5 linked regions of the Homo sapiens genome follow. The protein of the gene in region 4 interacts with the protein of the main gene of each other region in a biochemical or structural test. Each region holds a gene or a part of one and is shown on either strand. Other genes may lie near its edges.

Region 1 (5,867 bases), on a different chromosome or scaffold from region 4:
TCCCTGGCTGCTTCCTCTTGTGGAATGGGTTCAAAAGTAAGCAGTGTTGTTTACACTGACAAACTGAAAAAAAAAGAAAAAGAGATAACATTGGAGGCTTGGCACAGTGGCTCATGCCTGTAATCCCAGCACTTTGGGAGGCTAAGGTGGGAGGATGTCCCCAGCCCAAGAGTTCTAGACCAGCCTGGGCAACATAGCAAGACCCCATCTCAAAAAAAAAATTTAATTGGCCAGGCAGAGGTGGGAGGATCACTTGAACCCAAAGGGTGGAGGCTGCAGTGAGCCGTGATGGCACCACTGCACTCCAGCCAGGGCAACAGAGGGAGACCCTGTCTCTAAAACAAACAAACAAACAAACAAACAAAAGAGTTAACATTGGCCAGATTAGGATTCACCAGATAGTGTTAATATTAGTTTGATTTGAGACTTTAATCAGAAAGCACATGTGTGGTGGGGGTGGGTGTAACCTAAGTCAGGTAGAATCTTTCCAACTTGGGGGGGGCACACTCCTGATTGTAGCCATATGAGTCTGTCAGTGTGGTGGAAGAGGCCATGGGTTAATGGGCAGGTAAAAAAGCACCTTGCCTGGAATTGAGTAGAAAGTAAGGCCCTTCAGACCCCGTGACACACTTGGGGACATTTTCTTGAGTAACATCCTAAGATTCATGTACCTTGATGATCTCCATCAACTTACTCATGTGAAGCACCTTTAAACCAGTCGTCTCCAAATTCAGGGGCACAGTAACATCCAACAGGCTGGAGAAAGAACGTACTAGAACTTCCATTCCTTTTTCATGTCCTCTTCTAAAAGCTTTGTCAGGGCCAGGCGCGGTGGCTCACGCCTGTAATCCCAGCACTTTGGGAGGCCGAGACGGGTGGATCACGAGGTCAGGAGATCGAGACCATCCTGGCTAACACAGTGAAACCCCATCTCTACTAAAAATACAAAAAAACGAGCCGGGCGTGGTGGTGGGCGCCTGTAGTCCCAGCTACTCGGGAGGCTGAGGCAGGAGAATGGCGTGAACCCAGGAGGCAGAGCTTGCAGTGAGCCGAGATTGCACCACTGCAGTCCAGCCTGGGCGACAGAGCGAGACTCCGTCTCAAAAAAGAAAAAGAAAAAGAAAAAGAACTGTGATTGGGGAGGACGGTCACTTTCCTGTTCTTACTGATCAGAAGGGATATTAAGGGTACCTGATTCAAACAGCCTGGAGATCACTGCTTTCAACCATTACCTGCCTTATTTATTTTTAGTTACTGTCCTTTTTTCAGTTTGTTTCCCTCCTCCATGTGCTGACTTTTATTTTGATTTTATTTATGTTTATGTTTAAGACATCCACACGTTCCTCTGCTAAAACCTTGAAAAATAGGCCTTGCCTTAGCCCCAAACACCCCACTCCTGGTAGCTCAGACCCTCTGATCCAACCCTCCAGCCCTGCTGTGTGCCCAGAGCCACCTTCCTCTCCTAAATACGTCTCTTCTGTCACTTCCCGAACTGGCAGTTCTGGAGCAAAGGAGATGAAACTCAAGGTAAGGAAACCACCTTTGAAAAGAACCAGGCTGCTCTGCTGTGGTTTGCAAATGTGGGGTTTGTTTATTTGTTTTTTAGCCTCAAAGACCTTTCTTCAAATGAGTTCTGGCATAGAAGCACCGTGTAAAATAGTTAGAATTCTGGGCAAAGGGGAAAAGAGAGCTGGGGGCCATCCCTCTCAGCACCCCACAGGCTCTCATAGCAGCAGCTCCTAAGACACCTGGTGGGACCTTGGTTTCGAAATCGCTACTCTAAGGCTGGGCACGGTGGCTCACACCTGTAATCCCAGCTCTTTAGGAGGCCGAGGAGGGTGGATCACCTGAGATCAGGAGTTCGAGACCAGCCTGGCTAACATGGCAAAACCCTGTCTCTACTAAAAATACAAAAATTAGCCGGGCGTGGTGGTATGCGTGGTGGTAATCGCAGCTACTCGGGAGGCTGAGGCACAAGGATTGCTTGAACCCCAGAGGCAGAGGTTGTAGTTAGCTCCAGCTTGGGCGACAGAGCAAGACCCTGTCGCAAAAATTGTTTAAAAAACAAACCCAAAATTGCTACTCTCATTGGGTTCCTTTGCCCATTCCTGATTTTGGCAAGAGAAATGCTTCCAGATTGCCCTGATCTGGGTAGGACAGCATCACGCCATAGCAACACTGCCCCGTGAGCTCACTGCCCCCTCAACTAGCTTGTGGTCCTTGGTTAATGTCAGTTTCTTTTTTGAGTTTGTGTTATGTCTAAGGGTCATCTGCTGGGTAACGGAACCCAGGGACTGCCCTAGTCCCTAGACTGTGCCATGCCCGACTCTGCCAGCTTTGTCAGTGATGCTGGTGCTCGCCTCCTCGGGTGCTCGCCTGGTCTGAGCACACCCAAGGAGTTCTTGAGGCCTTAGGGTTGTTTGCGAGAGAATGAAAGAACACGACCTAGCTCTCTTTAGCATCCTTGGTCAGGTTCAACACTGCCCCCAGGGGCCTCTGGTGGAGCCAACCACCATCAGCCAAATAAATCCATAATTAGAGTCAGAAAATGGATGTCTGCATATGTGTAGTGCACTAATGTCCTGCCGATGATTGACATGGAGTGGAGAGTGACCTGATCATTGCTGTGAGCTCTGCTGGCCTTGGCACAACTCATGCTGATAACTAATGCACACAGTTCCTCTGGGAGGAAATGTCCTCAGGGAACTTGGAGTTTGGGTGGGGATGTGGGTTTGTGTGCCCAGCAAGCCCTTGTGGTTGTAGCAGACACTAGTGGCATCTAGGAGGCAAAGGGTCACCCCAGTCTTAGCCACGTTTTGAGTCAAGGTGGCGGAGTGGGGCTGGTGTTGACTCTTGGTGGCAGTAACTTTTCCCAATGGTGAAAAACCCCTCTATCATGTTTCATTTACAGGGGGCTGATGGTAAAACGAAGATCGCCACACCGCGGGGAGCAGCCCCTCCAGGCCAGAAGGGCCAGGCCAACGCCACCAGGATTCCAGCAAAAACCCCGCCCGCTCCAAAGACACCACCCAGCTCTGGTAAGAAGAACGTTCTCTTGAATCTTAGAGGAAGCTGAAGCTCTCAGAGGTACAGCCTTCATTTTAGGAGGCCTTAGGCCACTGAGAATGAATAACCCCTGGCAGCTGGTCAGCAGCTTGCAGTTTACTAAGCACTGGAGTCTTCATTGCCTTCTCAGTCCTTTTGATTTCTGAGGCAAATGTTGAATCCCTACCTTTTTTTTTTTTTTTCTTTTGAGACAGAGTTTCGCTTTTGTTATCCAGGCCGGAGTGCAGTGGTGTGATCTCAGCTCACTGCATCCTCCACCTCCCAGGTTCAAGCGATTCTCCTACCTCAGCCTCCCTAGTAGCTGGGATTACAGGCACCTGCCACTATGCCCGGCTAATTTTTTGTATTTTTAGTAGAGACAGGGTTTCACCATGTTGGCCAGGCTGGTCTCGAACGCCTGACCTCAGGTGATCCACCTGCCTCGGCCTCCCAAAGTGCTGGGATTACAGGCATGAGCCACCACTCCCAGCCTGAATCCTCACTTTTTATCAATGAAGAAATTGAGGCTGATTCTGCAGCATGATAAAAAAAAATACAGAAAAAGGAAAAAAAAGAAAGAAATCGAGCCTCTGAGAGTTTGCTTGACTGAGTCTAACCAGCTCATTTTAAACCCGAGGAAAATGCAGTCACATGACTACTAAGTGGCAGCTCTCGGAGCCTCTCTGGCCCCAAGTCCAGGGTTCCATAGAGGCAGCCCCAGCATGGCATGTTTTCAGTCCCCAAATGAGACTCTGGAGACAAATGTCTCTGGAGACAGAGCAGCAGCCTGGATAAGTCACAATGGGTGACGTCACTCAGGGCTCAACCCCTGGGCAGCTTAACTTGCTAGGGACGTTAGGAGTCTGCTGCAAAACCTGAGGGTCTTAGCTGAGCAGTCACAGGCTGGGCCCGTTGCCCTGGGCTCCTGTGAGTAAAACCCAGTCAATTTTGAGTACCCAGTAAGGCATCCATTGAGTTATTTTGCAGCCAGGAGTGCTATTAAGAACAGTCGCGGCTGGGCGTGGTGGCTCATGCCTGTAATCCCAGCACTTTGGGAGGCCAAGGTGGGCGGATCACCTGAGGTCAGGAGTTCGAGACCAGCTTGGCCAACATGGCAAAACCCCGTCTCTAATAAAAATACAAAATAATTAGCTGGGCGTGGTGGCGGGCGCCTGTAATCCCAGCTTCTCAGGAGGGTGAGGAAGGAGAATCACTTGAACCCAGGAGGCAGAGGTTGCAGTGAGCTGAGATCGCACCATTGCACTCCAGCCTGGATGACAAAAGTGAGATTCCTTCTCAAAAAAAAAAAAAAAAAAACAGTCGTCCTCTTTGGGGATTAGGGACAGCCTGCCTGCCTGCCCGAGCACTTCTCTCTTCCATTGCCCCAGTGAAGTATTCCAGGCCCCTGGGTTTAGACTCTGCACCATGTAGGGGTGTCTGACCTGCACTTGCTCCTTGGTGGCACGGGCAGCCTATGGCACTTGCTGCGGGCTGTGACCAAAGCCTGGCCTGGATCTTGGATCTTGGTGACTCTGCTTCTCCCTGGCCTGAGGGAGCTGCCCAGAGCCTGCCCACCACCTGCTGCGTGTCTTTGCGGTGGCATTTCTCGCACACATGCCGTGCAGTGGCACCCCCAAGGATGGCCATTCACTAAGGCCCATTGTTTTTGTCTTTTCGCTTCGTGTTTTCTGGCCTGGTGTTTTTCTCATATACATGTGATCCAGGGATAATTCCCAGAATTTTGACAGGATTTTAAGTAGCGTTTGGATCCTGCTGTTTTTTTTTCACTTAACATCGGGCCAGTTGACTCACACTCTGTTTTTTGTTGTTGTTTTTTTGAGACGGAGTCTCACTGTGTCACCCAGGCTGAAGTGCAGTGGCACAATCTTGGCATACTGCAACCTCTGCTTCCCAAATTCAAGCAGTTTTCCTGCCTCAGCCTCCTGAGTAGCTGGGACTACAGGCACAGGCCACCACGCCCTGCTAATTTTTGTATTTTTAGTAAAGACAGGGTTTCACCATTTTGGCCAGCCTAGTCTCGAACTCCTGACCTCAAGTGATCCGCCCACCTCGGCCTCCCAAAGTGCTGGGATTACAGGGGACTCACACTTTGTAACAACCTGAAACAACGTGATGCATTTCCCTTTGGGTCTTACCTGCTCTTCGGTGGCTGCCTGCAGGTGGAGAGACCCTCCCCCTTGGGCCCCTCGACCTTGTTTCAGAATGGGGCCCCTGCTGGGCCAGCTGTGGGTGCCTGCCACGTGAAGGACTCATTAAGGCCCTGTTTAAGCCTGATGATAATAAGGCTTTCGTGGATTTTTCTCTTTAAGCGACTAAGCAAGTCCAGAGAAGACCACCCCCTGCAGGGCCCAGATCTGAGAGAGGTACTCGGGAGCCTACTTCGCTGGGAGCAGCCTCCCTTTGCGTGTGTGGCCATTCACTGGCTTGTGTTTCTAGAGCCGGGAGGACCCTTTTCTGCAATGCAGGGTTCACACAGGGTTCGCAGCCTGAAGATGGAGCAGTCCGAATTCTCTTCCCTGTGCAGTTTGCGCAGCTGTGTTTGTCTGATGGGCTTTCTAATCCTGTGTGCTCTCCTTGACTTCAGGGACAATGGCATTACAGGCATGAGCCACCATGCCTGGCTGTCTCCCTATGTTTCAGATGAAGACATAGGCTTAAGGAGGTCAGGTGACTTGCCCACGACCACTCTGTAAATAAGAGGCATGAAAAGTATTTGGAGCCACCACCACCAAGCCCACTGGTCACCCTGGGTCTCTGAAGTCAGGGAGGCAGGAGGATGGGAGGTCTGAGGAGGCAGAGAG
Region 2 (5,867 bases), on a different chromosome or scaffold from region 4:
CCCCGGTGGGACCCCAACATACACTCTGAGCCACCTCCCTGGCCAGCACCCTCAGGAACTTGCCACACAGAAGCAGCGTTCCCCGTCTGCTCTGTCCCCTCAGCAGCCTCAGGACTCCTGAGCCCTCAGTTGCTTGGGACCTGGGCTCCCCCCGAGTGAATCTTAGTGGATTTAAATGTGCACAGCCTGCTGTGCTCCGGGCTGCGGCACAAGGAACGCCAGGCATACCCCCAGCCCAGGGCGGCCCTGGAGGGTGGACCTGGAGGGTGGACTTGGAGGGCGGGTCCAAATGGGTTTTCACAAACACAGCCCAGCAAAGCACCTGAAACCACCCCTGGCGGCCACATTTTCTGAGGGTTCCCTTTACAGCTTTCAAGGTTTCTCGTCCCTCGTCAAATCGCACTTTAAAACAAGCCCACCGGCTCTGTGGGGCGCCCTTGAGGGGGACCACATTGGACAATCCCCTGTGCTGAGGCCAGGTCCCCTGTGCCTGATTTTAGTTTGATTCACAAAAATCAACTCTGAAACCCACTCCTAGCCATCTCCGTGGTTCAAGACAGCAGCACTCAGCAAATCCAAATTCTCCCACCGATCCCAAACAACCCCACGCAGGAACGTGACCGCAGCGAACGCTGTGGGCCAGCTCACTCAGCAGCTCCTGCTCTCCGCAGGCTCAGGTGCACCCTGGGGAGGAGGCTGCCGCCTCGGCCCTGCAGGCCCTGTGCACAGCTCCTGGGGGTCTCACTGGGGCCCCAGGAGCCGCCACTCTTGACTTTCCAAAGAGCAGCAGGAGCCAGGTCACCGCCTGCACTCACCACGTGTGTAACCTGGGTGCGTCTCTGCAGGACCAGGGCCTGCACGGTACCCACTCCCTCCCGAAGGTGCCCCTGCGCCCCCAGGCCTGGGTGCACGGCCAAGCGCCTCTGCTCTTGCGGATCCAGCACCGGCAGAGAGAGAGGACTTGGCAGAGACAACGCTGCGGTGCCAGGGGCAGGACACGGGGGGCTCAACTGCAAAGCCCACAGGCTGTGGAGGTCCCCACAGACACACGGCACGGGCCTCACCTGAGGAAGGTTTTCGCGTGGGTGAGGTGAGGTGTCACCAACAAGAAATCATCCACCAAACGCAGGAGCAGCCTAAAATAAGGGAAAATACACAGCAAGGTTAACTTTACACTTTTTACGTAGTATCTGTCTACGAGGGACTGAATGTCAAACAATTTACACAGCCATAAATAAAGTAACATTCTCCAAAGCGGTTAAATGAAAAACTTAAATTTCTTTCCAACAGACGAGCTCTCTACAGTTAACTGCTACAGCAATTCCTCATTCATTATAAGTACTCAGTGTTTACCATCAGCTTGTGCAATTCTGTGCCAGCTGAAGACGAACGAAGGCCATCAGGCGCGGCCCCACTTCTCAGACTCTTAGGGAAAAATAACTGAAGACGGTAAGAAAGCTGGGGCTGGGAACCTCGCCCCCTCTGAGCCACGTGGTGCCCTTTACCAGCATGGCAGCTGTGGTCCTCAGCATGATCCGAGACCCAGATCCTATCCACAGGAAGCTGGGCATGGTGCACTGTGTGACCCTCAGGCCCAAGCCCAGCGCCCCATGACCATGGGCCAGAGGTATCCTGTCCCAGAGGGCTGACCAGTGTGCCGCCAGCTCGAGGACACTTTCCTCCAAATCCCAGAGCAAGTTGTGTGTACAAGAAATTTTTGTTTCTGTTACATAAACTTATTTCAATCTAGAACTTGAACCTTAATGAAGAAGAACCTTGATCCACTGTACATGCTATAATTGGAGCTAGAGTTTCAAAAGATGCACAGGAAAAACCCGGAGTCTTCGAGAGAAATGGCTGTGTGGCCTGCAGGCTTCCTGACGCATCCTTCACTAACTGTCTGCTTGTTCAGTGATACTATTTTCATAAAAAAATAACTGCTGTCCACATCCTCTCCAGCACCAGAACACTTTTACACTGTTGGTGGGAGTGTAAACTAGTTCAACCATTGTGGAAGACAGTGTGGTGATTCCTCAAGGATCTAGAACTAGAAATACCATTTGACCCAGCCATCCCATTACTGGGTATATACCCAAAGGATTATAAATCATGCTGCTATAAAGACACATGCACACGTATGTTTATTGCGGCACTATTCACAGTAGCAAAGACTTGCAACCAACCCAAATGTCCATCGATGATAGACTGGATTAAGAAAATGTGGCACATATACACCACGGAATACTATGCAGTCATAAAAAAGGATGAGTTCATGTCCTTTGTAGGGACATGGACGAAGCTGGAAACCATCACTCTGAGCAAACTATTGCAAGGAAAGAAAACCAAACACCACATGTTCTCACTCACAGGTGGGAACTGAACAATGAGAACACTTGGACACAGGGTGGGGAACATCACACACCAGGGCCTGTCATGGGATGGGGGGAGTGGGGAGGGATAGCATTAGGAGATATACCTAATGTAAATGATGAGTTAATGGGTGCAGCACACCAACATGGCACATGTATACATATGTAACTAACCTGCACGTCGTGCACATGTACCCTAGAACTTAAAGTATTAAAAAAAAAAAAGTAACTGCTGTCAATAAAAGCCAGCTGAGTTGAACCACATTAGGTTGGCACGATATTTAGGTGTGTGCGTCCTTGGGTGTAGACCCCATGCAAGTGGGATGGGCAATGGGCTGAAGAGGCGCCCAGTCCAGGCCACCTGTCGAGGGCCTGCTGGGAGATGTGGGGCCTCAGGCTGCACCAGCCCCATCTCCCCAAGGACCCTAACGGAACCTGGGTGACGTGACAGAAGCTGGTGTGCTTCCTCGGTGTTGAATTCACATGCTCATCATGCAGGGCAGCGGCCCTCCCGCCTGCTGAGCCCTGAGGCCTCTGGACATGGCCGCTGGACAGAGCCTGCGTGGAGCCCGCAGTCCTCAGGCTGTGCAACCCCTCCCGTGCGGCTTCATACCAAGAAGGGGCTGCAACCTTGTCTGGTTCCTCAAGACAGAGCAGTCATGGTCTCCAGAGCACCAGGAATATTAACACTGAATGCATCAAAAGCAAATCAACCCCCACCCAAGCCCCCCTGGGGAAGAGGAGGCCTCACCCGTCCCGCCGAATCCCCGCAAACAGCTTGTTCTCCATGTCGCCGTAGCACAGGCTGCAGAGCAGCGTGGAGAGGATGGAGCCCTGCGGGATCCCCTGGCACTGGACGTAGGACCTGGGGCGGGAAGACACAGGTGAGAGACGGGCAGGGCATGTGCTGGACATGCGTACACTCAAACCGAGCCACACACAGACACAGAACCTCATACACACAAACGACACGTCTACCATTCAGCCGGCAAACACCTCAGAAACATACCAGATGAGACCTCTGAACAAACAATCCCTGCTCCCCACTCTCACCATGCACTGGGGCGGCTGAAACAGATCCAGCCACAGGTGTGACCACATCCTTGCTCTGAATCATCAAGGTTTTCTTTCATTAAGGTTTCTTAAATCTTAGAGTTTATTCACAGAACCAGACACTTGACCCGGAATGAATGCTTAACCGGACTCCTTTTTTTTTTTTCAAGGAATTTGTCCACGGTGAAAGACTCATGACCCTACATGTAGCCGCTGCGCGCCAACGGATACAACCTTGCCCCTAGTTTCAGCATGACCAACGAGAAGCAGAAACTCTCCAAACAAGGATGCCAAGGGTGCGTTTTCAGACAAACAGTGAGAGCAGAATAGCCCCGTGGAACCTAAAGGTGCACACAGAAGGCATGGCTGCCACGCGACCCTCAGCCATCCCCAGAGCCCACAGGACGCCACTCCTGTTGCTAAGAGACGCTTGCAGCCTACTGCAAAAACAAGACCTGTTATTTTCGGGAAGCGCTATAGGTGGTCACCTTAAAAAGAGGCTTTCCGGCTGGGCGTGATGGCTCACACCTGTAATCCCAGCACTTTGGGAGGCCGAGGTGGGTGGATCACCTGAGGTCAGGAGTTCGAGACCAGCCTGGCCAACATGGCAAAAACCCCTCTCTACTAAAAATACAAAAATTAGCCAGGCGCAGGGGGTGGGTGCCTGTAATCTCAGCTGCTCGGGAGGCTGAGGCAGGAGAAATGCTGGAACCCGGGAGGCGGAGGTTGCAGTGAGTTGAGATCGCGCCACTGCACTCAAGCCCAGGCAGACAACAGTGACGTTCCGTCTCAAAAAAAAAAAAAGAAAGAAAAGAAAAGAGGCTTTCCTTGCTGGTGCAGATATCACAGTGATGGGCAAGAGGACTGCACTTTTTGCACAGAAGCACACGCACCAACTCTAGGAGTCCGGCCAGCCCAGCGAGTCAACGCAAGCAGATACGCCCCTGTGAGCACATGGGATGGGAAACTCTCTCTGTTCTTAGTTTTTGGGGCAACAGGTTTTGAAGACGTTTTTATTCAGAGGCCAAACTGGACCACGATGGGGACTAGAGCTTCGGGCCTGTCCGTGTCCTAGGGACAGGACAGACACAGTCACCTCCTGTCTGTCAGGGCATGAGGACGCAGTCATCACCTCACATTCCCCAAAGCCCTGCCACACGTGGACGGTACGTGACTTGATCCATCTTAATAAAATTCACGACCACGAAGGAGGCCCGTGGTGGCTTCTCTGGGGAGGTGACTTTGTCAGCGAATTCTGTGGGCCTGGGGGCCGCTTACACACATGTGCACACGTGTCCCTCGGCCAAAATTCACTCTGCTGCCATGTGCAATTTGTGTTTTTCCAGAACGTGTGTACTACTTAATATTTCTAATTATACTTTAATAAATATTATAATTGCTGATACCATTAGTGATTACTTATAATGCAATAATTAATAGTTATATTTTTAAATAAAAGCTTCCGAAGCTGTGCACAGTCCTTTATCCGCTGGAGACGATCCCAGAGAGAGGCCTCCACGTTCCACCTGACTGCGGATGACCTTGCTGATGACCTTGAGTGTGCACGAATTTCCTCCGTGCTACCACTCTCCCCAGGCACACACAGGGTCGCAGGCAGATGCCTGCCGGGAGGTGTGTGGTTTTACTTAAAATCCAGAGGACGTGATGTGGCACCAGGCACTGTGGCTCTACCACCGTGAGTGTGGCTCACCCAGTGGCTGTGTGACGGCAGCTCTCCCAGGCCGCCTGCCCCATGGCCACCACAGGCCCCCCGAGAGGAGCAAACTACACGGTCAACCCCGCACTTTCCAGATGGGAAATCTAGTCACAGAGAGAAGAGCCCGCGCCCTCGCGGGGGTCACACGACAGGGACAGGAATGAGAATCGGATAAAATCCTTTTGTATCGGGAGAGAGAGATACAAGCGTGTGAGAGCCGGGTGTCCAGCGTCAGTAGTAACTTGGAGCTGACAAGCTGCAGGCTCAAACGCTCGGCGCACACCTGACCCAGACACACCCCCCGCCCCTCGTCCTCCACGCAGGAGCAACTCCACACCCCGCTTGCCATTTCCAGGCCTCGTGTGGCACCTGCTCCGCTCCGGCTGCCGCAAGCCGAGCCATGTTTCCGGGGCCTCGGGAGCCTGCAGCCCAGGAGCCGGAGGGGGCGGGGGCCAGAAAAGGAGACTCTGGTGGCCCCGGGCAGAAGGGCAGTGGGGAAGGGGCAGGAGAGAGGTGAGCAGAAGCCCTGCCAGCCCGCCCAGCCACCCGCAGGGCAATGGCACCTGGCCACCTGACTCACTTGCCCCTGATGCGCACGGCGTGGTGGCACATGAAGCGTAGGAAGACGTCGAAGAGGCCACTGCTGGCCTCATTCAGGGAGGAGCTCTGCGAAAGCAGACGGGAGACACATGGGAGTGAGCCGGTGGGTGCTGAGACAGGCAGGACCA
Region 3 (5,867 bases), on a different chromosome or scaffold from region 4:
ATTATTAACAGTGGAAGAGTTGTAGACTCTTCAAGTTAATCATGTTAAGGCTTGGGAAACAGGAGAAAGTGAAATCTGTTCTTGTGACTTATTTATAATATTCAACCTGCATCTGTCTAGCATCCTTCCTCTAAGAACCTTAGCGTATTTTCCCTTAACTTGAATGGTAAATTCCTGAACTCTGCTGTGAGGCAGTGTGAAGAGATAATCAGGCCTGACACGGTGGCTCATGCCTGTAATCCTAGCACTTTGGCAGGCTGAGGCAGGCGGATTCCCTGAGCTCAGGAGTTCGAGACCAGCCTGGGCAACATGGTGAAACCCCATCTCTACTACAATACAAAAGAAATTAGCCGGGCGTGGCAGCATGTGCCTGTAGTCAGGAGGCTGAGGCAGGAGAATTGCTTGAACCCGGGAGGTGGAGGTTACAGTGAGCCGAGATTACGCCACTGAACTCCAGCCTGGGTGACAGAGAGAGACTCTGTCTCTTAAGAAAAAAAAAAGAGAGAGATATCATCAACCAATAGTGCAGTAACAGTTTTACAGACAGTGATAGGAGAAGACACTATTACTCAGCACTAGAACTGTCAAGTCAAACAGTGTCACCAAACAGTGGTGAGAGTAAGGAAACACTTACTGTTCACTTTACTAAATTTCTTCTGGGGAAGACAATTCTAATTAAAATCTTGGGCCCAAAAATCTGTCCTTTTTGCCTAAGAGAAAGTCAACAAACCACCTTTTAGCTTTCTTACTAAGAGGTGTCTTGGGAAGACTTTGGCATAAATTTCTTTTCTTTCTTTTTAAAAAGAGACAGGGTCCTGCTGTGTTGCCCAGGCTGATCTCAAACTCCTAGCCTCACGTGATCCTCCCATGTCAGCCTCTCGAAGTGTTGGGATTATAGGCATGAGCCACCACAACTGGCCTGGCATAATTATTACTGCAGAAATCTGAGAACACCCTGCTATCAAGGGAGGGTGTGTTTAGCCTTACAGAGACTCCCAGGGCTGGCAGGGGTTTATTTTTAATCTTAGAAACTTTAAACAAAGGTTGACTTTTGACCATGTATGTTTCTCATCTGTCCATAGCCAGAGTTAGCAGGTAACCACACATTGTCATGGAGAACCAGTTTTGTGAGGTCCTTTCAAAGTGCATGTTCAAGCAAACAAAACACTTAAAAGCTGAGTTAAAGGCTCTATGCCATGTGACCAGTACCACACCCACCCTTTCAGTATGCCCTCACTCTTCCATGCCAGGTTCCCACCTGCACAACCACATAACTGCCCTGACAGTTCTTCAAACAGCTCTATTCCCCTCAGCAGTCTTTATTTCTCAACGAAAGCAACTGAATTCACCAAAAGACTTAAGTGGTAGGGTTGTAAAATTATTAAATAGGCCAGGTGCAGTGGCTCACGCCTGTAATCCCAGCATTTTGGGAGGCCGAGGCAGGCGGATCACCTGAGGTCAGGAGTTCGAGAACAGTCTGGCCAACATGGCGAAGTCATGTCTTTACTGAAAATACAAAAATTATCCGGGCGTGATGGCATGAGCCTGAAATGCCAGCTAATCGGGAGGCTGAGGCATGAGAATCACTTGAACCCGGGCGGCAGAGGTTGCAGTGAGCCAAGATCGCACCACTGCACTCCAGCCTGGGCGACAGAGCGAGACTCCATCTCAGTATTAAAAAAAAAAAATTATCAAATAAAAATACAAGATGTCTCTCAGGCAATGTTTGGAATATACTTATTATTCTTCTCCGGCCCCGCAAGTTATTTGTTGTTTATCTGAAATTCAAATTTAACTGGGCACTCTGTATTTATCTGGCAACCCTAATAAGAGGACCTGCTGGTACCACTGCCATCCCTGCAAAAGCCACTCCTTGGGTCTAGAATGGGAAGAGGGATCACTGTTCCTCAGAAGGGTAGAGTGGGCACAGAAAAAGCAAGAGGTTGTAGTGAAAAAGACACTGTATATGTAATTAGTCCAGACTGGAGTTTCTGCCCCCAAACTTAAAAACTGCACGAGCATGGGTGCCTAGCTCGGGCCATCTATAAGCAAGGCAAGCAACATCCTTCACAAGCAACTTTGCTGGCCTCCCACACAGCCTCCTTATGAGCTTCCATCCCTTCTTTCTTCACAGGCAAACCGCTGCGCACCTTCAACATGCAGCTGGTGCCACCATGGCAGCAAGGTCTTCGGACTCCTTTCGGCTCCTAGTACTTCAGACGGGCTCTGCCCTATTGGCACATCTGTCTCCACCAGTAGACTTAGGAGAGTTTCAGAAAGACGAGAGGGGTGAGCAGAGGCAAGAACTGGCTAGGCAGATGGGTTGTGGGAAGGAGAGGGCCTGGAACTGCAGGAGATTCCAAGGCAAGAGTGAGTATGATGTAAAGTTGGTGGGGTCAGCAGCGGCCAACTCTGGCCTGACACTGCACCAGGGAGAAAAAGCAGGCTGTGGCATTAAGAAAACCAAAAGGTAACACCCAATGTCGGTGCTGCTGGGAAGAAATGGACATTCAACTGTAAACCATTCTAAGGGAGAAAACAATTTGGTTCTACTATCAAAAAGCTTCAATTTCTCAGGCCGGGTGTGGCGGCTCATGCCTGTAATCCTGCCACTTCAGGAAGCTGAAGCCGAATCACTTGAGCTCAGGTGTTCAAGACCAGCCTGGGCAACATGGTGAAACCCTGTTCCTACAAAAAATACAAACATTAGCCAAGCCTGATGGTGTGTGCCTGTAATCCCAGCCACTCAAGAGGCTAAGGTGGGAGGATCCCCTGAGCCCAGGAGGTTGAGGCTGCAGTGAGCTGTGATTATGCCACTGCACTCCAGCTTGGATGACAGAACTAGACCCTGTCTCGAAACAAAAAACAAAAAAAAAACACTGAGATTTCTGCATATACCCTTGGGCTCTACCATCCAACTTCAAGGAATTTAACTTTAGGAAATAACTATATTTTTGTGTACAAAGATTTGGTTATAGCAGTGCTTTAAAAAAAAAATCTCAGTAAGAAAAGAGAATTTAAATGACCACAAATAGGAGCCTGATTAAATAACTCTGGTACTGTTATAGAACTGCAATATGTGGCCATTAAATATGATCCTAAAGAATATTTATCACTGTAGAAAAGCAGTCACGATGTGTTAGATAAAGAATGTGTTAGATAAAGAAGCAGATTATGAAACAGTGTAGACAATAGGATTCCTCACCTGTATTGTTCTATTCTCAAATTGCTACAAAGAAATACTTGAGACTGAGTAAGTTATAAAGAAAAGAGGTTTAATTGGCTCACGGTTCTGCAAGCTGTACAGGAAGCATAGTGGCTTCTGCTTCTAGGGAGGCCTCAGAAAGCTTCCAATCATGGTGGAAGGCAAAGGGGGAGTGAGGCATCTCACATGGCAAGAGCAGGAGCAAGGGTGGGAGAGGTGCTTCACACTTCTTAAATAACCAGATCTCATAAGACTCACTATCATGAGAACAGCACCAAGAGGATAGTGCTAAGCCATTCATGAGAAATCCACCCCCAAGATCCAACCACCTGCCCCAGGCCCCACCTCCAACATTGGGGATTACAATTGAACATGAGACTTGATGGGGACATAGACCCAAACCATATCACCATCTCACTTGTTTTGTTTTTGTTTTTGTTTTTAAAGAAAAACTCCACCGATGTAGAAATAAGTTTGCAAGGATGTATGCAAAATGGTATAGTGGTTATCTTTAGGTGAGGGAGATTATAGGAGATTTTAATTTTATACTATTTTCTATATGTTCTACATTTAAAAATAATCATAACTTTAGAAAACATAATATGTAAAAATACACAAAATATAATACATATAATTTAAAATGCTGCTTAATCTAACCAGTTTTCCCTCTCAAAAAATTTAAAGAAATGAAAAAAAATCCTCATCACTGAAAAACCAATACAAGGGCCAACTTACACAGCTCTATGAAAATGCTATATGATTAAGAGTAGGGAAGGGAAGCTCATTGGGAAAATCTATGGGAAAAAATAGGAATGATTCCTTTTTTTCAAGTTTATGCATGAACCTGACCTCAGACATCGGCCATTTAGTTTCTGTTAGCTTCTAACTGAGCACATTTATTTAGTGCCTGGGCTGTGTCAGGCACTTTGCATGAATTATTAGTGTGTTTGGTCCTCAAGGCAACCTTGAGGCTTGGAGAGGTCACCAGCCAGTCACAGTGGGGCTGGAGTTGGGATTTGGACCAGGCCAGATGAGGGGCTGCCCTCAAAACTGCCAGAGTTAGAGGGATCCTGGGGGTAAAAGGGACCCAAAGATACTATCTTTGCTGATTCAAAATTTTAAAGCAGTGCATAGGCCGGCGCATTAGCAAAAGAATATTTTTCTTTTTCTTTTCTTCCCTTTTTTTTTTTTTTTTTTTTTTTTTTGAGACAGGGTCTCACTCTGTCACCCAGGCTGGAGGGTATTGGCAAGATCTCAGCTCACTGCAGCCTGGACCTCCTGGGCTCAAGCGATCCTCCCACCTCAGCCCTCTGAGTAGCTGGGAGTATAGACACGAGCCACCATGCCCAGCTAATTTTTGTATTTATTTATTTATTTTTTTTATTTTTTGAGACGGAGTTTCACTCTTGTTGCCCAGGCTGGAGTGCAATGGTGCGATCTCAGCTCACCACAACCTCCGCCTCCTGGGTTCAAGTGATTCTCCTGCCTCTCAGCCTCCCAAGTAGCTGGGATTACAGGCATGCGCCACCACGCCTGGCTAATTTTTTATTTTTAGTAGAGACAGGGTTACTCCATGTTGGTCAGGCTGGTCTCGAACTCCCAATCTCAGGTGATCTGCCCGCCTCGGCCTCCCAAGTGTTGGGATTACAGGTGTGAGCCACTGTGCCTGGCACAAATTTTGTATTTTTAGTAGAGACGGGGTTTCACCATGGTGGTCAGGCTGGTCTTGAACTCCTGACCTCATGATCTGCCCTCCTCAGCCTCCCAAAATGCTGGGATTACAGGCATGAGCCACCACACCTGACCAGGAATATTTTTCATCCATCTGTATATCACCTGTGGGCAAAAACTGAGAACAGGAAAACCCTTTTATTCCATAGATGCTACACAGTCTAAAAATCATTACATAAAATCTTTACCAAACTGGAAATGAGGAAAACAACAGTTTTGCAATCTAGGGCAAAGCTGATGAAATTCTGTAGAGCATTTCAGTATCCTTCATCAGCCTTAAAAGGATACCCCGAATCTTAAAATAAAGATACATTTGATCAGGAAGACTTTCTTATTTTCCTTTTCAGGATGTCCAGCGTGGAACCACATTCAAATACCCTGTGTATGATCATGTCCTGAAAAACTCGCCAGCAATACACAGTGGCTCCAAATGCTGGCACTGGTACACAGTTTAGCAAATGTGTATCTGCTACGTGCCCCTTTCAAGGAGTGAGGACCTTATGGGTTTGAATAAGAACGGCCATGTCTCACAAATTTTGTCAGAAGCAAAATCTGATGCTTAAGACATTTTACAGTGAAGCCTCACTATATTCATGTATACAGTACTTTTTAATGGGGCTTCAAAAAACAGCTCTACCACAGAACGGGAGAGTCTATCCCAATCTTGGGCTGGTATTTTATAGGCCAGACCTGCTGTAACTTTTGGTAAGCCTCTGTTCTGGTTATACTAAGGCTCAACTTTCACTGATAACTATTTACTCTAGTTCCAGGTCATGGTGACCTGTGAAAAATCTTTGGCCAGTTATGTGTGGAATTACCATTAAGCTTAAGTACTGCCATATAGTATTCTAATGCTTCTGCTTTATACAAAAAGTAAACTACAACGAAAGGTGTATTATCAATTTTGTTCTTTAAAATCTTGAGCCCCGGA
Region 4 (5,867 bases):
ACCCGGTAAACATCTCTGTCCTTCCCCCACCTCCCCGTGGGTAGTGGGTATTTATAGAAACAGATACGTGTTAGGGGACAGCCAGACCGGCCTGCCCGGAAAATCGATCCCCCAAAGAGCCTCCCAGGCCTGGCTCCAGCCAGCAGGGAGCATCGCCAATTGTCCCCCGCGTGTGTAAGCATGTTTTATGAGTGCTACAGGTTTGAGCACAGCAGAAATTGTAATCAACATTAACAAAAATAAGGGCCGCCGCAGCAGTCAAAACAAGCCACCCCTGTAGGATTCTGCAGTTGGACATTATTCAAAAGGAAAGGGCAAGCGTTGCTTTGGAGGTGGGAAAGAAAAAGCACCTAACAGGTGCTGTGGTCTCTGGGAGGGGAGAGGCCAGCGTGGGACTGGTTGCTGGTGGCTGCGGAGACTGGCAAGCTGGATTCGACTAAAGCATGTACCTTTTCTCAGCTCCCAGGGATCACCCTTGGATGGTGATGGCCAGCCTGGAGGAGGTCTGCACTTGGAGGAGGTGATGGTTTGGAGGTCTTTTTTTCCCAATTGGATTTTCCACAGGAACAGCCTAAGATGGTTCTGTGTGAGGGAGGCTTGCTAGGGATTGGTTTTATTTGCTAAGTGAAAGTTGAGTTCTTGAAGAAAAGGCCATCTCCGGTCTACAGGGGAGTAGCTCTGGGGACATATGTTATGGGGAAACTTGTTTGTCAGAGAACTGTGAGGGGATGTCTAGACTGTAGTTGCACCTGTTAGACTTGGAGAGATGTGTGCAAGTTTCGTAGGAAAATGTTTTGTTGCTGTTACTATCTTCCCCCTCCCTCTGTCTGTCTCTCTATCCTGACACATCTGGTCCCAGGGGCTGGGAATTCATTGCACAGAGGTTAACTAACCTGTGTTGGACTGTGGATGGTATAGTAGGATGGATGATTCTGTATATTACTGTTAAGTGTTCTTGTCACAGTGATATTTAAGGGACTGCCATTGATTTTAGGGGTTTGGATTTTTTTGTTTGGGATCATCTGACAATTTGGAAAATATAATACCCAGTTTTTTGCTATGTGTTGATGTAATCACATGACATGGTGTGAGCTGGAAAAAGAACTATTTGGTTTGCATGTGGATTCCAATTTTGTAAGGATGGGCTTTGCTTGATCAGAGCCTCTTTGCAATTGAAATACATGTAATGAAAGTAGATGAAACGACAAGTCTCCACTGGAGGGAGAGCCTGTGGTGCACCAGAAAAGGAAGGATGCGAATGTGCTTCTCAGTACTCCTCATAATGGAGGCCTGTATTTTGCTGTGGCATATGCCAGATTTACTTGTTTTTAACGTGTGTGTAAACTTCGGTATGCTGTTAATTATTAGATGCTTGACTTTGAAGGTGTGAATTTGGGTTTCGATGGTGGTTTAGTTTTGATTTTATTTCTATAACATAGCAGATTTCATAGTACAGGAAAGGTTACAAGGACCACAGAGTTTATCTGGTTCTATTCTTTCAATTTATAGATGAGGAAACAGACTCAGACAAGGTAACTGGTTTCATCAAGATTCCCCAGCCAGTTCATATCAAGGCCAGAGTGAAAGCCTACATCCTCCTGCATCTAGTTTTAATATACTGATGGAGACTGCTAATTCTAGGAAATTGTACTAGCCTCATTATAAATGCAAGAACCTTTGTAGATCCATATTCCCATATGTCTGTCAGATTTTTATAAATTTTTAGTTATTATTTCCAGAGTAATTACACCTAGGAAGAACTTCTAGAATGAATGGGGGGCGGGAGGGCATTAAGGAGATAAAAATGATCTTGTCATAGGAGCTTGCCCACATTTTCTCTTACAGGTGATATAGTAGGCAGGTTAAATATATGATTATAAAGATTATAAACTTTGGAATTTATCTAGACCATTGCCCTTTTGTTTTATATCTCCATGTATAAGTTGTTTTACACTTTAGTTATTTCTGTTTGTGTGAGAGAGAGAAGTGTGCCCAATCACTGTCTTACTTCCTATTATTTTTCTATTAATGTTAATTGGTAGTTATTAATAGAAGTATTTTTAAATTCAAAAATATTAAAATATGTATAACTTTTGTAACTGTTTTACTATGTAAAACACTCCAGTTATCAGTTTTACCTTTATAAAATAATTCAAATTGAAATACACATTTTAAAAAATGGCAGTATTTTGAAGAAGAAAAAGTAGACATTTTTCTTTCTGACAGGGCCACACAGACTGTCAGAATGTTTGAGGAGGAGCTAAAATTCCAGTCTTTTTGGACTCAATTCTATTACCATAATACTATACAGCATTTCTAAGATGACTTCAGAAAAGTTTTTAAACGCCCAAGACTATTATCACAGTGGAATATCTGCTGTTTGCCATTTTCTTATTGGAAGAAATGAAAACTACCAAACTGGTTAGACTATTGTTTTTATATAATATTTAATACCAAAGTACTTGATGATCAAAGAAGCCTTTGCAGGTCTCTCAATTCGAACCCATAAATTGTAGCTATTTTAACAATTGTATTATGTTTTTATTTTTTGTTTTGTTTTGTTTTGTTTTTTTGAGACGGAGTCTCACTCTGTTGCCCAGGCTGGAGTGCAGTGGCTCCATCTCGGCTCACTGCAACCTCCGCCTCCGGGGTTCAAGCGATTCTCTTGCCTTAGCCACCCAAGTAGCTGGGATTACAGGCACCCGCCACCATGCCTGGCTAATTTTTGTATTTTTAGTAGAGATGGGGTTTCACCATGTTGGCCAGGTTGGTTATGAACTCCTGACCTCAAATGATCCACCTGCCTCAGCCTCCCAAAGTGCTGGGATTACAGGATTGAGCCCCTGTGCCCGGCCTCAGTATGTATTTTTAAATGTGACACACACTGTGCTATACATTGGCATATCGGAATAAGCCATGATCTCAGACTTCAAGAGGCTGAGCTGGAGGGAGAGGTTTTTAGTATCCTTAAGTTTATGATGTAGTCTTGACATACGTATTCTGGAAATGTTCTGGCATTTCTAGTCCCTCAGCACCCCCACCCTGCTCTCTGCCCCATTTTTTATAAGTCAGTTAATTGTGCTTTTGAGCTTGATTGTGATTTTAGAGTCCTGCAATGTTTGAGATTCAAAGTCTTCTTTTGCTAGAGCTTCTCAAATGAATCTCTAACATCTGGAAAGCTTTTAAGATTGCATGTGTTGCTTTTAGGTGTTTGGTTGATGTGTTTGTTGCAAGTGTTTTATACATGGTTTGATTGATGTGTCTGCTACAGGTACTTTATGCTTGGAGGTCCTTGGCCTCCAAGTCTGTGCGGATCCACTGCAAGCCTAACGTCTTGTGACTTAGGTCACCAGGGACGTTTCTTAATTCCCTGGGCCTTGACTTCATGTTTCCTTATGAAGGTACACAATGTAGTTCTCAGGAACAACTCCAAGAGAGGCAAGAGTTAACAAGGAGGATCTATTGGCATGTGTTCTTCCATCCCAAAGATATTTATTGAGGGCTTACTATATGCCTGGGTTTATGTTAATGAGGACTTGGAAACATAAGAGGGGACCCAGCCCTGGAATTGCTCACAGCCAGATGAGTACATCTGATGTTAAAACAATTGCAATAAAGAGAAATAAGTAAAAGGGTGAATCACCTAGGTATGAGAAAGGAGATTACAAGAAATATCTGGAAAGGACAATAATAATGCTCTCATTGACTGACTACTAAGCACTTTACACATATTACCTTATTTAATCCCCCTAAAAGCCCTAATGAGGTAACTTTGTTACCTTCTTTTTGCAGACAAGGGCACTGAGGTTAACAGAGATGAAATAAGTTGCCCTGGGTCACACATTTAGTAAATGGTGGAGCTGGATCATTTAATGTGTGTCTAACTGAAAATCTACCATTATGAAACCTGACCTCACTAAAAGCAGAGGAGTGTAAAAGTGTGTGGTGTTTTTTGGGTCCTGGGCTATCTAGCTTTGTTCTCTTGGAGAGAAGAGTGACAGTAGTTGATGAGAATGGAAGGACTCCGATCATTTAGCCTCTACATTTTAGAGCCTTGTGTTCTTACTGGTAAGTTCTTGCATTAGCTATGGAAATAGGTTACAGCCACAGGCCTTGGGCAAAAGCAAGAGTGGTCTCAGGTTGAGACTTTTAAATCAGACTCTAGAAGCACTATGGAGAAGAGATTTGAGGAATTCTAGACTTAGAAGCAAGGGGGCATGTTACGATGCTGCCTCAGTTGTCCCAGTGAAAGACATCAGGAGAGTGAGATGAGGCAGTGTTGATGGAAAGGGCCTGGGATAGTAATGATGCATCTTCTTGGTGACTTGGGAAGGTGAGGGAGGTGTTGAGATTTTCCAGGCACACAGTGCTGAGGATTCATTCGCAGGTGGATAGCCTGAGTGACACATGGAGGGGAAGCCTTCTTTTTATCAAAAATGGAGGATTATGGAAGTGGGAAACTGGTTTGTTAGAAAAATCATGAGTTAAGTTTGAGTTGCTTATGGGAGAGGGAGCTGATCGATAGTTGGATATGTGTGTCTTCCACTCAGGAGATAGCACCTTGGAAGGTCTGAGCTCAGGGAACAAATGCGCAAACATCAGGCCATGGGCAGTTGCTGAAGCCCTGGCTGTGTTCAGGATCAGTTGCAGGGGGTTATGGGAGTAAGAAGCCAAGAGAATCGAGATTTGAACCCTGGGGAACTCTTGAATCCACCTAAGGTTAGGTAGTAGTTGATGCTGCAAAGGAGACCAAGAGAAGGCAGTTGGAGATATAGAAGATGGTCGTTTCTTGTCAGTCTCGTTAGTTTTAGTTACTAAAACATTTGTGATCATGTATTAAATTATGCGAAACACAAAAATTGCTTGAAGTAAATTTCTGAGGCTTGGTTTTACTTTGCTGTGTTTTTAGAAATCTCTAAAGCCCCAAGGTTAATTTTGTCCTAATGAAGAGCTTTATGCTTTTTATAGCATGTATACAGGTAATGTGAATTTTTCTGCTGAAATATCACCACTCCACTCTAAAGAAAATGATTCTATAGGAGAGAGATATTTTGATTCAGGCCCCTTTATTGTCTGGTGTTTGAAAGACCACAGTGGACAGGAGAGGGTGCAGAGAGCGAGGCTGGGGAAGAGAAGCATTGGACAAGCCTGTACCTCTTTTATATATGCCCAAGACTTGCCTGATTCATTTTTATGGACTGCCCTGCTTTTGGCATAGAACAAGGGTAAAATAACCTTTCTAGCTACTCTTATTGAATATAAGGTCACCTAGCATGGAGTATCATCTATGAGTGTGATAAAAAAGCTCAGTTATAAGTCTAAGAAATGATATCCCTGAGCCTATGAAGTCACAGTCAGACAGGCCCCAAGTATTGTCTTCTGTTTTGTTTTAGTTAGAAGTGGGCAGAGAGGAAGCTCACACTCCACATAGTCATTGTGCATATTATGTATCCAATAAAGAAAATGTGAACGTCTTGGTCTGCTAGTAAGAAGGAGTTGGAATTTCATTTTGTAATCCAGGTGTTCCCAAATCATGTTTTGAATTACTGTGTTACATATACAGAGCCCTTCTGCTCTTTCAGTAGTATGTAAAGCCCCAAAGGTAGGATTTAAAAGGGGATAGTAGAAAAAATACTGATGGCAGTGGACTTCATCTAGTTAATTGTAAGTTCCTGGAGGGCAGGGACTCTGTCACTTTGGCAGCCAGCCTCCTGTTAATACCAGTTGACTGAATGAGGTGGATTGTGATGACAAGGTGGTGTAAGATTTCATACAGAAATCACCTGCCAGGCTGCTTTAAGACTAGGGGTTGTCCAAGGCAGGAATTCCTAACTGGGAGAGGATCCTGGCTGCCAGTCCTCTCCTAC
Region 5 (5,867 bases), on a different chromosome or scaffold from region 4:
GCCCCTCAAAGTGGTTACTTTAAGAAGTTATGCAGTTAGTATGTATAATACTGCCAAAACAGACTAGGTATAGTGGCTAATGCCTGTAATCCCAATGTTTTGGGAGGCTGAGGTGGGAGGATTGCTTGAGGACAGGAATTTAAGACCGACCTGGGCAACACAGCGAGACCCAAACGCTACAAAAAATTTAAAAAGAGTAATTTAAAAATACCAATACATAAAACGTATTACAGTTGAACATCCCTTACCTGAAATGCTTGGGACCAGAAGTGTTTTGATCTTGGGTTTTTTTTTTTTTTTTTAAATTTTGGAGTATCTGCATTATATATATTTATCAGTTGAGCATCCTCAATCCCAAAATCCAAAATGCTCCAATGAGCATTTCCTCTGAGCATCATGTTGGTGCTCAGAAAGTTTCCGGTTTTGCAGCATTTCAGATTTCTCATTTTCAGATTAGGAATACTCAACCTGTGTAACTCCCCAGTTAGTGTGACTTCAACTTTTTTCCCAACAGACTTGCTGGCACAATGAAGCACAACAGTCCTGAAGCCTAGTCTAAAAAGCCCCGTTAATACACTACTAAGTTTTGGGGACTTCTAGTTCCAGCAATTTGGCAGACTGTGCAGAGAAACCACTCTTGTTAAGGAACACATATATATGCTAGATATTAAAAAAAAAAAAAAAAAAAAGGACAGCTGTGCAGGTGATAAAGAGAAACGACTGTACTGTATAAAGCTTGGAGAGACAAGTGCCACCATTTATCCCAAAGGGACCCACTGATGTCTCTTGGGCTAGAAGGGCTTCAAGGAACCACAGATTTCACATGAGAGTCTGGAGGCTAAGCAAAGAATAGAAAGTCATCACAGGAATCTCCTCTTCTGTCCCCCTCACATATATAAAGCTAAACATAAATCTTAAAAGGGCAACACCATGAAGGAGTGAAACAGAAAAATCATACCTCGAGAGATTTACCTATCTCAGCCATGAATAGATGCAGAATGGAAAAAGGTCTCTTTTGAGAACTTCTAACTACAAGTCTGCATTTTGGAGAGTTTTGGACTGCACTCTACACTATAAAGCCTGGTTCAGTGTTGGTTAACTGTGTGGTGGCTCAACACTATGAGCAAGCACCAAGTAGTCTTCCTCTCTACTCTGCCATCTACTATTCAGGAGAATACAAAAAAAAAAGGAAGTATCTGTCAAGGTAAGTCCAGCGTCTAAACTTTAATTAGCTGTGTTACACTGGAGAAGTTGCCTAACTTTTCTGAGCCGTAGTTTCCCCATTTGACAAACTAGAATGATAGTGGTTATCTATGACATATTGGGAAAATTAAAACAGGTAATCTGTCTACAATACTTAGGAAAGTTCCTAGTACATACTAAAATTTCAGTAACTGTTAGTTACTGTTATATGAGAGACATGGAAATAAAGTAGAAACAGATTATTTATTAAGAACATAACAAGAACATTTTCAAGAGGTGGAAAGAAGCAACAGAAAAAGCTACTCTTAAGACTTCACACTCAATGGGGTGATATACACCTTCTATAATCCAAGACAAGTGAAATCCCAGAGAATGGTCAAGGTCTGTGTTTTTCAACTTAAGACATCCTTGGAACACTAGTCAAAATACACCCTTTATGGGTAAGAATGTACTGTACTATAATAAAGAACTTTTAACAGTTGAAGAAAACATTAGCACTATTTCTTGATTATCACATGAGATCTCCTTCTGGGAAGATTTAGGAAGTTGTCTCAAGAAACAAGCAAAGGGAATGGAATAAAGAGAGTTTAAGAGTATGTAATACTTTAATAATGAGACTAAGAACAAGATGACACAAAATCTTGAAACTTAGTAGGAACAGTTTCAAGGGCAGTGTTTAGAGATGAGACGATCCCAAAATCTGTTCAACAGCCATCAATTTTTTATGTTCCAGAACAAGATCAAGGGAAGTATACTAAGAATTCACAAAGTAATACCACTTAAGTAACTAATGAGTTCCTCACAGGGTATCAAGATCAGGAAAATCATACAGAGTCCAAGCAGATCTCACAAGCAGAATTATTTAATCATGGGATAGATTTGACAAGTCTGAAGATACACAGCTTGATTTGTAACAGTTTTCAACAAGTCCTGGATGTATATCAGTATCAAGGATACTATGGGAGAGCTCTGTCAGACAAAACTGGATTTAGATTAAAGGGACACCTGACATTAAAGGAAAAATTGGGACACATATACTGGCATATAGGAGAATAGTGAGAGCAGATACTCAACACCAACCCAGATCAAATCCAAGCGTAACAACTTGGGAACTATCCCAAACACTAAAGCAGGCCATCCTTATTAACAGAGATGTTTTCCAGAAAAGGAGGAAAAGGGTCTTTAGATCCTAAAGGTCCTTATTAAAACATCATCACACATGCACATGGTTATAAAATCAGACTTGAAAAAACAAAATACACTAAATATTTGCCAAAGATCTACAGCATTATTACTGAAAAGTCTGACCCCTAAACCAGCAGAATTGGCATCACCTGAGAACTTGAAAGGCATACGAAGTTGGAGGCCCCACCTCAAGACCTCTAGAGTGGGCATCTATATTTTAATAAGAGCCCCAAGTCATTTTCATACATATTAAAGTTTGAGAAGCAGTGTGCTAAAGGACATCGGAAAGTTTTAAGTTGCTCAACATCCTGATTCAACAAGCTTACAGTGTAATTAGGGAAACTATCAAACAAATAGAAAAGATAAATGAAACTTAAGAACAAATAATCTTATAATTAGAAACATTTATAATGGAGTTATTTTAGCCCTGTCCTTGATAATACAGTTGTTGTAGAAAAATATTTAAAATTCCGGCTTTCTGGTTGTTATTTATGTTACACAAATGATCATGTACACCACCTGAGTGCTTATGCAAAGGTTTTAGGAAGTCAAACACGACATTTCCAGAGAAGGATTAATCAGAATCTGTTACCTGGTAGCAATTTACCTGCTAGACTGATCAGATGATGGTCGTGGTGGTAGTGGTTCCACTGAAAATAATTCTTCACTGCCCTGCATGGCATCTATGCTAGTACTAGCCAGGGTAAATGGTGCAGTTGGACGAGCAATCCCCATTCTGACAGGAACAATCAGTGACTCTGCTACGTTGCACAATTCTTCCACAGCGTAAGGTAGCAATGCTTGGAATACACGCTTGCATTTTCCAATTGGCTGTGGAATAAAGTTGCTAGAACAAAAAGAGAAATATCAGCAATCTATCTTTTCATATACATAAATCACTATCACAAAAACAGAGTGAAAATGGTATCTAAACCAAAATCAAAAAGGATGCCTTACTTTTTCTTTTTGGATGAAGCCATTTCCACACTCAGAATAACAAAAACTCTTGCCACTGAACGTAGAAACCTCATTGTCACAGCAATAGCTTCTTCTCTACGTCCAGGTGTATATTTGTTTTGGAGTTCTTTCACTAGTGTACCTAGTAGAGTATCTAAAAGCTTTAAAAAATTATATTCACTCTATTAATGTTAAGATACTTCATAAGATGTTTAGACATTCATAAAGTTATAAGTTCTAACATTTTTTAAGTATTAACATTTTATAATAAAATCTCAAAACAAATTTAACCAAAACATTTACAAGGTCAGTTTATGAAATATACCTGCCAATGTGCTTGACATACAGTGAGTCCTAAATGTACGATTTCTTATTTTTTGTCCCACAGTCCTTGGTATATCAACTAATATTTAGAAGAACAATACCAAATATATGAAATCAGAAGAAGAAAACATAAACTCAGTCTGGGGCACTTTCCAAAACAGCAAAGCAGACTCAAATATTTATATGAATAAATTCATAATCCCATCTCCCTCATGGAACCATTATTACTTTCTAGTCTCTTTTCTGTGTGCAGCTTCTTGTATAAATGTTAGCTACAGAGAACACCCAATTTTCACAGTTTGGTTGTTTGGTTTTTTTTTTTACGTTATTTACAATACGATTTATTTTTAAATTGCTGCATCATATTCCAGTAAGTGGTCAGGCTATAATTTGATTCAAGATTACACTAGTATTAGGCTGATATTTTTCTGTTTTTAAATTTTACATTATTCTGTGACATGCCTTTATTTTTCTCACATCGTAAATTATTTATTTATGACAGGTTCTGAGGGCACTGATAGTTTTATGTTTTCCAGAGAAAGGAACGATGCAATGCCACCCCATCCCTATCTGAGTGTGTTATTACCATAACCTCATTCGCACTGGATCTTAAGGTTTAAATTCTTTTCTAGTTTCACAGCAAAGAAGAGTACTTGAAAAACATACTTTTCATGTACTTGTAATACACATTCAAAGAACTTACCAAAATATCTGCTGTACACTTAACTATAAGGCAATGAGTGAAACAGTCCAGCCGAATTGTGCCACTTTGCTGATTGAGGTATACTTGCTCTTCTGGCAAAAGATGGCCTATTCTACTGCTGGCACTAAGACTTGAGGAGAAACGAAAGACAGAATGAACTGTAAAAGGTCTACACTAACGTAGGAAATACATAAATCTAAAAAGGTTTTAATGAATACGTACGGGTCTTTATTCTCCTGCGACCCAAACATAATCATAGATTTCAAGGCATTCCAGTCCTGTAGAACACGCTCCAATGCAAGCTGGGCAAATCTTGGAGGCTCTAAATCATGATCTGGCATATCTGAATCTAAAATGAAAAAGAAATAGTGACCAAAACAAAAATAAAACATATTGCTTCCCACAAGTGTCATAAATGTCTAATTAACTCACCTTCAGGACTGGCTGTTTTTCGGTTACGATCTTCCCTGATTCGAGGTGGCCTGTATTGACAATGCTCCACCGTCTGCCTTGCGACTGTCTGTACTAAGAATAGTAAGAGGTGCTCTCCCCTGCAAAACAGAATGTTGTCGTGAGGAGGGAGGCTGAAAAGCTACTCAGCTGTGCTGCGCTCTTTTGATTTAACTTACTGTATGTTCTAAAAATCCCACTTGCCTGCTGTTTGGCAGAGTAACCAGATTAGTAGCAGTGAGCAGGCGATAAAGTAGATCAAGACGAGCAGATTTCTGTCCAGCAATAAGAGTTTTACATTTACATTTCTCCCAACAATCACAGTAGGCTGTTGGTGATGTCCGTTTGAGTCTATAGAGAATTTATACACAAGTACAAAAACTGAAATTTTTTAAACATACAAAGGTTTATGTTGACATTATGAAGGTATAACTCACTGAAACCAGAGAGAGCCCTTGTTAATTTCTAAATGCAAAGTATAACTGTCAAAGCTTATATAACAAGAAGGATTACTTGGTAGTAATGACATCTATAAAGCAACACAGAATTCCTATGAGAAGAGGTACTCTAAGGTACAATCACTTTTGGAATCTCTTCCCTAATTCCCAGTCCTGTTCAAGTGGTCCTCCTATATGACCTAATGAACCCTGTAACCCTATGGGCAGATATTTCTTGCTTCTGATAGGGATGTGAACACTGTCAGGACTATTCACCACCACCCTGGCATCTAGTACACTTGGAAAACAATCAATAACAACAGATTATCACACCTTTAGGTACTTAAAATAAGGAAAACAAAAAATACCAACCAGAATTCTTTTAATATCTATTAAAATTTTTCATTTGTCCTATACAATTACTTAATGGTACGGTAGATGGTTTTTACAGTCCAATTCTCTATTATAACATTTGTAGCCATTTATACTGAAGTCCCTATCCATAATCCTAAAACACCACAGATGTTAGTGCTAGGTATTTCATTGCTTCTCAGGTCTCTGAAAACCAACAGAACTAGCTGTGGTAACTGTTGCTGAATGAAAGACTG

What was found.
Region 1: of the proteins of DYRK2 (region 4) and MAPT, one has a biochemical effect on the other in vitro, tested with the Homo sapiens proteins (one study listed by BioGRID).
Region 2: of the proteins of DYRK2 (region 4) and TERT, one has a biochemical effect on the other in vitro, tested with the Homo sapiens proteins (one study listed by BioGRID).
Region 3: the proteins of DYRK2 (region 4) and SIAH2 form a complex in vitro, tested with the Homo sapiens proteins (one study listed by BioGRID).
Region 5: the proteins of DYRK2 (region 4) and UBR5 form a complex in vitro, tested with the Homo sapiens proteins (one study listed by BioGRID).

What each region holds. Positions count from the first base shown.
Region 1 is NC_000017.11:45,988,549-45,994,415, forward strand, and holds part of MAPT (microtubule-associated protein tau), read left to right. Parts: intron 1-1,329; coding exon 1,330-1,527; intron 1,528-2,911; coding exon 2,912-3,038; intron 3,039-5,375; coding exon of another isoform or gene 5,376-5,429; intron 5,430-5,867. UniProt on the Homo sapiens protein: Promotes microtubule assembly and stability, and might be involved in the establishment and maintenance of neuronal polarity.
Region 2 is NC_000005.10:1,265,400-1,271,266, forward strand, and holds part of TERT (telomerase reverse transcriptase), read right to left. Parts: intron 5,806-5,867; coding exon 5,720-5,805; intron 3,235-5,719; coding exon 3,121-3,234; intron 1,137-3,120; coding exon 1,065-1,136; intron 1-1,064. UniProt on the Homo sapiens protein: Telomerase is a ribonucleoprotein enzyme essential for the replication of chromosome termini in most eukaryotes. Active in progenitor and cancer cells. Inactive, or very low activity, in normal somatic cells.
Region 3 is NC_000003.12:150,750,939-150,756,805, forward strand, and holds part of SIAH2 (E3 ubiquitin-protein ligase SIAH2), read right to left. Parts: intron 1-5,867. UniProt on the Homo sapiens protein: E3 ubiquitin-protein ligase that mediates ubiquitination and subsequent proteasomal degradation of target proteins.
Region 4 is NC_000012.12:67,650,275-67,656,141, forward strand, and holds part of DYRK2 (dual specificity tyrosine-phosphorylation-regulated kinase 2), read left to right. Parts: exon of another isoform or gene 1-520; intron 521-5,867. UniProt on the Homo sapiens protein: Serine/threonine-protein kinase involved in the regulation of the mitotic cell cycle, cell proliferation, apoptosis, organization of the cytoskeleton and neurite outgrowth. Functions in part via its role in ubiquitin-dependent proteasomal protein degradation.
Region 5 is NC_000008.11:102,290,610-102,296,476, forward strand, and holds part of UBR5 (E3 ubiquitin-protein ligase UBR5), read right to left. Parts: intron 5,174-5,867; coding exon 5,027-5,173; intron 4,924-5,026; coding exon 4,805-4,923; intron 4,722-4,804; coding exon 4,595-4,721; intron 4,503-4,594; coding exon 4,373-4,502; intron 3,507-4,372; coding exon 3,346-3,506; intron 3,236-3,345; coding exon 2,996-3,235; intron 1-2,995. UniProt on the Homo sapiens protein: E3 ubiquitin-protein ligase involved in different protein quality control pathways in the cytoplasm and nucleus. Mainly acts as a ubiquitin chain elongator that extends pre-ubiquitinated substrates.